Linked DNA regions of Homo sapiens: region 1 is linked to region 2. Evidence: fine-mapped expression QTL. Tissue or cell type: whole blood. Region 2 holds a variant in brackets; the other region holds the start of a gene. All regions are shown on one strand. Distances are from middle to middle.

The links. PIP is the estimated chance that this variant, and not a neighbour inherited with it, causes the effect.
Region 1: KANK1 starts here. The variant in region 2 is fine-mapped to the expression of KANK1 in whole blood (TOPMed, PIP above 0.99).

Annotation. Positions count from the first base shown.
Region 1 is chr9:501,830-507,352 of GRCh38, forward strand. It overlaps KANK1 (KN motif and ankyrin repeat domains 1), which reads left to right and starts at 2,866. Exons shown (of 12, transcript NM_015158.5): 1 at 2,866-2,925. LOC105375947 (translation initiation factor IF-2-like) reads right to left here and starts at 3,724. Exons shown (of 4, transcript XM_047424276.1): 1 at 3,431-3,724; 2 at 3,110-3,340; 3 at 1,868-2,992. The coding sequence starts at 3,724. The coding sequence ends at 2,171. RefSeq lists a silencer at 2,502-2,991.
Region 2 is chr9:538,449-543,971 of GRCh38, forward strand. The region is part of intron 1 of KANK1 (KN motif and ankyrin repeat domains 1); the gene reads left to right. Among named protein-coding and RNA genes, the nearest start is that of KANK1, 37 kb to the left of the region's middle. The variant C/T (reference allele first, on the strand shown) is at 2,824.

The sequences.
Region 1 (5,523 bases), 37 kb before region 2:
GGCACAAGCGCCCAGCCTCGCGAGAGTCTTTATATAAATCCAAGGGCTTCTATGCTGACATGTTTGACAATCTTTCGCATGTTATATTTCAAGAAATGTTTCACTTAGTAAACGGTTCTATTCAAAGATTGTTCTTTTGTGACAGTTTTCCAGTATAATTCTATCATCAGTAAATGGTATAATGGGTAGGGGGAGGAAGAAAGTACTGAAACATACTACAGCATGGATGAGCCTTGCAACTATTATGTTAAGTGAAAGAAGCTAGTAGCATGTTGTTATGTTCCTAGTTATATGCAACGTCCAGAATCAGCAAATCCATAGAGACAGAAAGTAAATTAGTGGTAGCCAGCGGCTGGGAGTAGGGAGGAATGGGGAGTGACTAATGGGTATGGGGTTTCTTACTGGGATGTCAATGTCTGGAATTAGTGGTGATGGTTGTGTGACTTTGGGAATATATTCAAAACCACTGAATTATACATTTTGGGAGTAAATTGTATGGCATGTGAATTGTATGTCAATAAAATAACTAAATTAAAAATGAAATTTCAAGTATAAATCCACTAAAAATTCAGAATCTGCCATACTTTTGATTGATTCGTTTTGCTTACTCTTGAGGGCCTATCAATGTTTACTGACTAAATGCAAAGAGGGAGAAATAAAGGAGAGGTGAAGGCTGGGAATTCTGGGGATGGAGAGCACTTTTTTTTTTTTTTTCTTAGAGTCGTGCTCTGTCGCCCAGGCCAAAGTGCAGTGGCATGATCTCGGCTCACTGCAACCTCAGCTTCCCGGGTTCAAGGATTCTCCTGCCTCAGCCTCCCGAGTAGCTGGGATTACAGGTGCACGTCACCACGCCCAGCGAATTTTTTTGTATTTTTTAGTAGACATGGGGTTTCACCATGTTGGCCAGGCCGGTGTTGAACTCCTGGCCTCAAGTGATCCACCCATCTCGGCCTCACAAAGTGCTGGGATTATAGGTGTGAGCCAGTGCACCCGGTCGAGGGCACTATTTATTTATTTATTTTTGAGACAGGGTCACACTCTGTAGCCTGGACTAGAATGCAGTGGCTCAATCTCTGCTCACTGCCGCCTCGACCTCCAGGGCTCAGGCGATCCTCCTACCTTAGCCTCCAGAGTAGCTGGGACTACAGGCGCGCGCCATCGCGCCCAGCTGATTTTTTTTTTTTTTTTTTTTTTTTTTTGGTGAAAACAGAATTTCACTGTATTGCCCAGAACTCCTGGGGTCAACTGATCTACCTGTCTCGGCCTCCCAAAGTGTGAGGATTATAGGCCTGAGCCACTGCGCCTGGCCGACGAGCACTTTTAAAATGCAGGAGTCTTCCTGCCTCTGATATCTCATCCCTTATCACCATGCAAACAATTCTCCTTTTCATAGAAGAGTAGACATTTGGGGCGGGGTGGTGGTGGTGGGGGATTTTAGAAAATATCTACTGCATCCAAATGCCCTACTCTACAGACGAAAAAGCAAGGCCCAGGAGGAGGAAAGAGTTTGCTTACTGCCACCCAGTGAGCTGGCAAAGGCGCTGAGATTCAAAATGAGCTTTCCTGCCTTCACATATCTTCCGGCTGCCCTTTGCCTATTCCCTAAACAGTCAGGAGCCATCAAGTTCAGGAATTTGCAGGTGTGCTTCGCTGTGAACTGTGGAAAAGCAGCGTCTTCTCCCCAGAGGCAAGCATGTCGCCTTGTGAAGTTTGATGGCTCTTCACTTGCACACTCACAAAAAAGACTGAGCGTGTGTAACGCCCTGCTGGATGTGTGCGGTGCTAGAGAGCTTGGGGGTGAGGGGAGGACTCTCTCCCTTAAGAAAATCAGTTGACTGCAGAGCTAACATTGTTTTTTGAGTAATACCTGGTTTTTATAAAGTCGTCCCTTCAGTTCCCAAGCTCCTCTTCTGTTTGTTCAAGCCACCTTCAATTTGAAAAAGACTGAAGTCACAGCTTCTCAATCCCTACTAATTTCTCATGGACCTACTGGATTGCTCCAAATCGAGTATTTGGGACTGAACTAGGAAGCCAGTTCAATCCTGAGCCCCCGAGGCAGGCGTTGGGTCTTCTGTGGAGTCCCCAGAGACCTGCAACCTTCTGAACACGCATCCTCCCCTTTCCGCCGAGGACTCTGTCCTGCAGCCGAGCCAGGGCGAATGCACGGAGGTCACAAGGGAGGTGCCCTTGGAGGCGGGAGGTTTCTGGCCGCCGGGGCGACCGTGCTGACGAGGCACCTGCAGGAAACAGAGCTCTGCACGCTCCGGTCCCCCTCACCCGGGGAGGGAGAGGAGGTACAGAGGCGCTGGGGGAGGACGTCGAGCAGGCCAGCCTCGTTGCCAGAACCCCCGCCCCAGCCGGAGATGGGAGCACCGCACCGTCTCACGGGGGCTGGATTTCTTCTCCCCTTGCGGGTGTGTGTGCGAGGATGGACGTGGTAAATACGGGTTGGCAGAAGGAGCGAACCGCGGTGGAGGAAGTTCTTCTGCTTAGTTCTCGCCGCGGCGAGGCCCGCGGGCCAGGCGCGGCGACGAAGGTGCACGAAGGTGCCCCGCGGGCCTGGTGGAGTTGCAGCGGCGCGCAGGCGCACTGAGGGCCGCCCGCGGCCGGCTCCGCGGTACAAAGAGCGCCCCCGCGGGGAGCCGGGCGTCCTCTGGGCGGAGGGAGCAGCCGGGGCTTCGCCGGCCCGCGCCGTTCTTCTCACGCGCCGCTCCGGGGCGCAGCCACAGCTGTCGCCCACCGCGGGTGAGAGGCTTGCTGGTCCGCCCCGGCTTCCCCGCCCCGGCGGCGGCCGTGCGGTTCGGGCTTTAATTCTGGCGCTTGCCAGCCGGGGCCGACTCCGCCCCCTGCGCCCCGCCCTTCCCCGAGCTCCGGGTCCGCGGCGGAGCGAGCGAGCGGCCGGCAGGTTGGGAGGAGCGGCCGAAGGTGAGTGACGCGGCGGGGCCGTGCCGCGCCCCGTGCCGCGGCGAGGTTGTCCCGGAGCGCGAGGCCCCTACCCCTGCCTCGGGCTGGCCCCGCGCGGAGCCGACTTGGCGCGCGCCGGGGTTGCGCGGCGGCCGTGGCGGTGGCGGAGGGCAGCCCCCGCGGGCTCCCGCTCGTGCGGGTGAACCCGGCGGCCTCGGGGCGGTCCTGGGGGGGGGTCCGAGAGGTGGCGTCGGCCCCGCGGCCGTCGGAGTTTGGCGCGCTCTGCAGCGGCGGCGCTCGGCCGGTCTGGAGGAGGGAGAGGCGCGCCGGGCACGGAGCAGCGAGAAAGTTCGGGCCGGGCCGGCCGGCGGGAGGGTGCGGGCGCCTGGCTACCCCGGCCCGGCGCTCTGTCCCTCGGATGCCTCTGGGCCCTTCCCTAGCCCGGGGCGGAACGGGGGACCCTCTCTGAAGCGGCTCTCCGTGGAGTTGGATGTTGCCCTTCGCGGGAGGGAGTGGCGGTCAAGACCCCTTTATCCTCGGCCCCAGAGGGGCAGGTGGCCTCGGGTCGCCCTCCGCCAACTCCGAGGTGGCTTCGGCCGGGGCTGGAGGGCGGGGAGGCGGGGGAGGGGCGTGGGCGCTGCGGCCTCTGGGGCGGCCCAACCCGGCGCGGGCAGCGTGGGTTTCCGAGGTCCCGCGGTTCCAGGTCGAGGGAAGGTGTAGGGGCCCTGAAGCGGGCTGGTCCCCGAATGTTGCGTTTTCTGTGCCGCTTTGGGCAACACGCAGTGGCGCTCGCGGCAGCCACGGCTCCTTGACCGTTCATCTCCTTCACCCGGGTCCCGTGGAACTTTCAGAGGCAACTGTTCTTGGTGGCTCTTGCGGGTCAGCACGAGCCGTGCTGCACGAGCGTGACCTAGTGAAGGCCTTGGGCGAGTTGGCGTTAACAATTTATGGCGTCCGCCAGCGCTCGCTTTCCGCACGTGGCCTCTGCGGAGGGTCAGCCCATCTTATTAAATAGTGGATTCTATTAGACCCTGATACCCGAGGCTAATAAGGAAGCTTAATCATCCAGATGTGTAATCGTGCAGTTCCTTTCCTCACCGTCATTGCCCCCCACCTCTGGAGCTGAATGGAAATGAGGGTCTGTTTGCTTATATTGAATTCCTGAGTTTATTCAAGTTCATTTTTAGGTGGCGTTAACAGCTAAGTAGCTGTTCATCTGCCAGTTTCTCCTTTCATCCAACTTTCTCTACTAAAATGTTGAGCACGTTTTATTTAAAAAAAATTGAAGTGTAATAAACATATAAATTTACTCTTCTAAGGTCAAAATTCAGTGGTTTTTAATATATCCGTAAAGTTATGAAATCATCACTACCATCTGATTCCATTTCGTTGCCCCCAAAAAGAACCCCTATACCGATTAGCAGTCATTCTTCCATCTCCCAGCCCTTCTCCCTCATTTTAAGGCAGCTACTTAGGAAGTTTTTCTAAGATAGAGACTGAGTGAGAAAACTGAGAGGTGATTAACTTTGATCCTTTTTCTGTTACTAGGTTTGGGGAAAGGTGCTGCTGAAGCAATGGAAGAAAAATTAAGTATTGGCTGTCCTATGGGGAGGTTAAAATGAATAAGGATGGAAGAGAAGCTGCCAGTAGAGGAATAATTGCCTCCTGTAGAGACCCACAAGTTGGGAATACATTTTATCCCCTTAGGGCACAGGGATGCTTTCTGGGCTCTAGACTTGCCTAGTCCATAAATCACTCTAGTCGAGGTTCTGCCTCAGCGAAAGTGAGTTCTGGGTGTGTGTGTGTGTGTGTGTGCGTGTGCGTGCGCGCTCGGCAGGGAATGTTAGAAGGAAAAAAGACTAGGCTTAAAAGTAATTTTTTAAAATATCCAAACTGGCCCCAAAGAAAGAAACCAAAAAACCACAGGCAAATGGCCACTGGAATTGATACATTCAAGACTAGTTTCATTTCATGAGTATCAGTTCACAAATAGTTCTGAGTTAATGTGTGCATACATTAACTTTTTATCCCAAGTGGGAGGAGGAGGATGGAAAAGGATCTAGTTGGGGGCAGTGCAAGGAACTGGGAAGAGGAATGGGATAATGGCCGAAAGGGGCAGTGCTTGTGGGAGCTGAGGACTGTTGAGATGGAATAACTATAGGGTGAGCAGATTCTGAAAGAGCAGAGTGGGTCTGTGAAAAGTTGGACACTTCACTCGGGCTTTTTGTTGGATAATGTGTGCATGTTTTAAAAATCATTTTTAGTAAGGAGAGTTGAAGCTATCCAAATTATGCAACATCCACTACACTTCTCACTCACCCTTCAATAAGAAAAGTCAACTTGTTTTCAAGTGTTTCGGGAAGTTTTAGGCCTGTTGCATGGGTGACAGCTTATGCCATCTTTTTTTTTTTTTTTTGGTAATTTAGAACATTGACATAGCGAGACTCCGTCTCTACAAAAAAAATAAAAAATAACCGGATATGGTGGCACATGCACCTGTAGTCCCAGCTACTTGGGAGGCTGAGGCAGGAGGATTGCTTTAGCCCAGGAGTTTGAGGCTGCAGTGAACTATGATCATGCCACTGCACTCCAGCCTAGATGACCGAGCAATATCCTCTC
Region 2 (5,523 bases):
TTACTCCATGATTGACAAAACAATTTTGAGGATCCTAAGAGGCACATTCTGCCTCAGGCTGGAGCAGTTTTTAAAACTAAATTGACAGCAACTAGTTCAAGTTGGAACAGTCCTAACTTAATTATAGATACCTGCAGAGGTTCCTTCAAACAGGTGGGTTTCAACAGCGTGGTGCTATCTAGCAAAAGCTATTGTTTGCTTAGTTATTTGTTTGAGAGTCAGCTTAGAACATAAGGAAGGAGTCAGAGTTGGGGTGGAATTCTGTCTCTGATTGGATCAGAGCCTCCATTTTCCTAATTGTAATATGGAAATAATGATTGTCCCTCAGAGGATGGTTATAAGGGACAACATATTTGTTACACATTTGGCATAGTAAGTACTTCATAAATGACACCTATAAAAGTTTTTGTTTGAAAATTTTCCAGCTTTTGTTTTTTATTTATTTATTTTTTGAGACAGTCTCACTGTGTTGCCCAGGCTGGAGTACAGTGACACAATCTCAGCTCACTGCAGCCTCCACCTCCTGGGTTCAAGCAATTCTCCTGCCTCAGCCTCCCGAGTAGCTGGGATTACAGGCATGAGCCACCACACCTGGCTAATATTTATATTTTTGGTAGCGACGGGATTTCACCATGTTGGCCCAGCTGGTCTTGAACTCCTGGCCTCAAGTGATCCACCTGCCTCGGCCTCCCTAAGTGCTGGGATTATAGGCATGAGCCATCATGCCTGGCTGAAAACTTTCCAGTTTTTAAATGTCATGCATGTTTTTGCTCAAGAACGCTTTGGCTGTTTGGGGCATTTTGTAGTTCCATACAATATTTTTTTCCGCTGTAAAAAATTACATTGGAATTTTAATAGGAATAGTATTAAATCTGTAGGTCACTTCGGGGAGTATGAACAGTTTTAACAGTGTTAATTCTTCCAACCCATGAATACAGGATATCTTTCCATTTATTTATGTCTTCAGTTTCTTTTAGCAATGTTTTATAGTTTTCAGCATACAGATCTTTCACCTCCTTGGTTAAATTTATTACTAAGTATTTCATTCTTTCTTTTTTTTGAGACAGGGTCTCACTCTGTCACCTGAGCTAGAGTGCAGTGGTGCGATCACAGCTTACTGCAGCATTGAACTCCTGGGCTCAAGTGATCCTCTTGCCTCAGCCTCCCAAGTAACTGTGACTGCAGGTGTGTACCACCATGCCTGGCTGATTTTTAAATTTTTTTGTAGAGACATCTCTGCGTTACCCAGGCTGGTCTTGAACTCCTGGACTCAAGCAGTCCTTCTGCCTTGGCTTCCCAAAGTGCTAGGATTACAGGTGTGAACCATTGCACACGGCCTTATTCTCTCTTGATGCTATTGTAAATGAAATCATTTTCTTTATTTTTTAGATAGTTCATTATTAGTATATATAATAGAAGTGCTACTGATTTTTATATGTTGATTTTAGTATCCTACAACTTCACTGAGTTTATTCTAACAATCTTTTGGTGAAGTTCTGAAGGTTTTCTATATATAAGATTATATCATCTGCAAACAGAGACAGAGTAACTTCTTGCTTTCCATTTTTGATGTATTTTATTTTTCTTGCCTAATAGCTCTGGCTAAAACTTCTAGTACTATATTGAATAGAAGTGGTTAAGAGTGGGCATCCTGTTTTGCTCCTGATCTTAGAGGAAAGGCTTTCAGCTTTTTACCACTGAGTATGATATTAGCTACGGGCATGCCGTATGTGGCCTTTATTATGTCGAGGTCCATTCTTTATACCTAATCTGTTGAGAGTTTTTATCATGAAAGGATGTTGAATTCTTTCAAATGATTTTTATACATCTATTGAGATGATCCCTTGATTTTTATCCTCGATTTTGTTAACGTGGTATTAGTTAATTTTAATTAATTTGCATATGTTGAACCATCTTTGCATCCCAGGGATAAATCCCATTTGTTCATGGTGTATGATCCTTTTAATGTGCTTTTGAATTTGGTTTGCTGGTATTATATTGAGGATTTTTGCTTCTCTAGTCATCAAGGACATTGACCCATAATTTTATTTTCTTGTAGTGTCCTTGCTGGCCTTGCAAAATGAGTTTGGAAGGGTTGATTCCATCCTCTTCAGTTGTTGGAAAGAGTTTAAGAAGGGTTGGTGTTAATTCTTCTCTTTAAATATTTGATGAAATTCACCAGTGAAGCCGTGACATCCTGGGATATTCTTTGTTGAGAGGTTTGTGATTTCTGATTCAATCTCCTTACTTACTATTGGTCTCTTCAGATTTTCTATTTCTGTATTATTCAGCCTTGGTGTAAGTTGTATGTTTCTAGGAATTTATCCATTTGTTCTAGGTTATCTAATTGGTTGGCATATATTTGTCTATAGTAGTATCTTATATAATCCTTTGTATTTTTGTGGTATCAATTGTAATGTCTCATCTTTCATGTATAATTTTGTCTTTTAGTTCAGCTAAAGGTTTGTCAGTTTTATCTTTTCAAAAACTCCTGGTTTCATTAATGTTCATTTTTTTCCTTCTGCTGACTTTGGGCTGTTCCTTTTCTAATTCCTTGAGGTGTAAAGTTAAGTGTATTTGAGCTCTTTCTTCCTTAATATAGGAGTTGATTGCTGTAAACTTCCTTGTAGTGCTGCTTTTGCTGCATCTCTTAAGTTTTGGTTTGTTGAAAAACGAAAAAAAAACACAAAAAAACAGAGAGCTGGAGGCATCATGCTACTTGACTTCAAAATATACTAAAAAGCTGTCATCAAAACAGCATAGTAGTGGTGTAGAAACAGACATATAGACCAATGGAACAGAATAGAGACCCCAGAAATAATT[C/T]ATATTTACAGTCGGTTGGCTCTTTGACAAAGTTGCCAAGAACACACAATGGGGAAAAGAGAGTCTTTTCAATAAATGGTGTTGGAAAAACTGGGCATCCACATACAGAAAAATTAAACCCCTTTCTCACACCATATACAAAAATCAACTCAAAATGGACTAAAGATTGGGGGCATGGCTCAGGGGTAGAGGATTTGACTGCAAAATGGACTAAAGACTTAGTAAGATCCAAAAGTATAAAACTACTTGAAGAACACACAGAGAAAAAGCTTCTTGACATTAGCCTGGGCAATGATGTTTTGGATATGACCTCAAAAGTATCACAGAAGCAAACATAGACAAATGGGATTGTGTTAAACTAAAAAAAAAATTCTGCATAGAAAAGGAAACAAACAATAGAATGAAGAGATGGCCTGTAGAATGGGATAAAATGGTTGCAGACCATACATCTGATAAGGGGTTAATATATAAAATATACAAGGAACCCATACAACTCAATAGCAAGAAAATAAATAACCGGATTAAAAAAATGAACAGGCCGGGCGCGGTGGCTCACGCCTGTAATCCCAGCACTTTGGGAGGTCGAGGCGGGCGGATCACGAGGTCAGGAGATCGAGACCATCCTGGCTAACACGGTGAAACCCCGTCTCTACTAAAAATACAAAAAATTAGCCGGGCGTGGTAGCGGGCCCCTGTAGTCCCAGCTACTCGGGAGGCTGAGGCAGGAGAATGGCGTGAACCCGGGAGGCGGAGCTTGCAGTGAGCCGAGATCGCGCCACTGCACTCCAGCCTGGGCGACAGAGCGAGACTCCGTCTCAAAAAAAAAAAATGAACAGAGGACCTTAATAGAAATTTCTCAATAGAAGACATACAGATGACCAACAGATACATGAAAAGTGCTCAATATCACTAATCAGGGAAATGCAAATTAAAACCACAGTGAGTGGCCAGATGCAGTGGCTCATGCCTGTAAATCCCAGCACTTTGGGAGGCCGAGGCAGGCAGATCACTTGAGGTCAGGAGTTCAAGACTGGCCTAGCCACATGGCAAAACCTCGTCTCTACTAAAAAATACAAAACCACAGTGAGGTATCATCTCACATCTACTAGAATGGATATTATCAAAGGCAAAAGGTAACAAGTGTGTTGGGAAAATGTGAGATAAAGGGACCCTCTTAGACTGTTGATGAGAATGTTAGTACAACCAATATGGAAAATAGTATGAGTATGGAAGTTCTGCAGAAAATAAAAACTGAACTTCCATATGATCCAGCAATCCTACTTCTGGGTATACATCCAAAGGAATTGAAATCAAAGAGATACCTGTACTTCTGTGTCCCTCGCAGCATGATTCACAATAGTCAAGTTATGGAGACAGTGGAAGTGTTCATCAGTAGATGAATGGGTAAAGAAAATGTGGTATATGTGTACACTGGAATACTCTTCACCCTTACAAAAGAAGAAATCCTGTCATTTGCAGCAATATAGATGAACCTATTCATAAATGAAATAGCCAGGCACAGAAAGACAGATACTGCATTTTCTCACTTATATGTGGTATCCAAGAAAGTCAAACTCTCACAGAAGCTGAGAGCGGAGTGGTGGTTGTCAGGGGCTGGGAGATGAGCGGTGCTTGGGAGGGCGTTGGTTAAAGGTAAAAAGTTTCAGTTAAGTTAAATATGTTCTGGAGATCTATTGTACAGTGTGGTGACTGTAGTTAATGTATACTTGGAAATTACTAAGAGATTAGCTCTCAAATGTTCTCACCACAAATAAGTGCGAGGTGGGTATGTTAATTAGCTAGATTTAATTTCACGAGGTCTATGTACATCAAACCATGTATATTGTAAATATATACAATTTTTATTTTTTAATTATAACCTTAATAAAAGTGGGAGGAAAAGTGATAAACGGTAATAAGCCCTTAAAGGTAATAAGTTAACTTGTCACCCAACGTATTTATTAATTTTTCTATACAATGTAATGTGCTTGGAGAACATTGAGGCCGGGCACGGTGGCTCATGCTTGTAATCTCAGCACTTTGGGAGGCCAAGGTGGGCGGATCACTTGAGGACAGGAGTTTGAGACCAGCCTGGCCAACATGGTGAAACCCCATGTCTATTAAAACTACAAAAAAAAATAGCTGTGCATGGTAACGGGCGCTTGTTATCCCAGCTACTCGGGAGGCTGAGGCAGGAGAATTGCTTGAACCCAGGAAGTGGAGGTTGCAGTGAATCAAGATCACACCATTGCACTCCAGCCTGGGCAACAAGAGTGAAACTCTGTCTCAAAAAAAAAAAAAAAAAAAATTGAAAATCCGCAAGCTTCAGAAGACACACTACTGCGTGTTTGTCCTTCTACGGAAGTCAGTACAGATCTCAATGACTTGTTCTCATTTCACCAGAAAATGACCATTGTGCATTATGCTGTCAGTGCAGATGGAAAACTAGCAGCAGTTTACAAAGTTTCCACTTGAAAAAACATAACTCTAATTGATTTAAAAAAGTAGTTGATTGTTGCAAGACTTGACATTTCTCTAGTTAATTTCTATGCCTGTTGTTTTGCCCCTTACCGTCTTCAAAATCTGAATCCAAATCCAGGGCTTCTCTATTAGGAGGCTCCATATCATATCTCTTTAATCCTGATAATTTCTCAGTTTTTTGTTTCCTACCTACCTGGCTATTTTCTTACGCTATCTTTA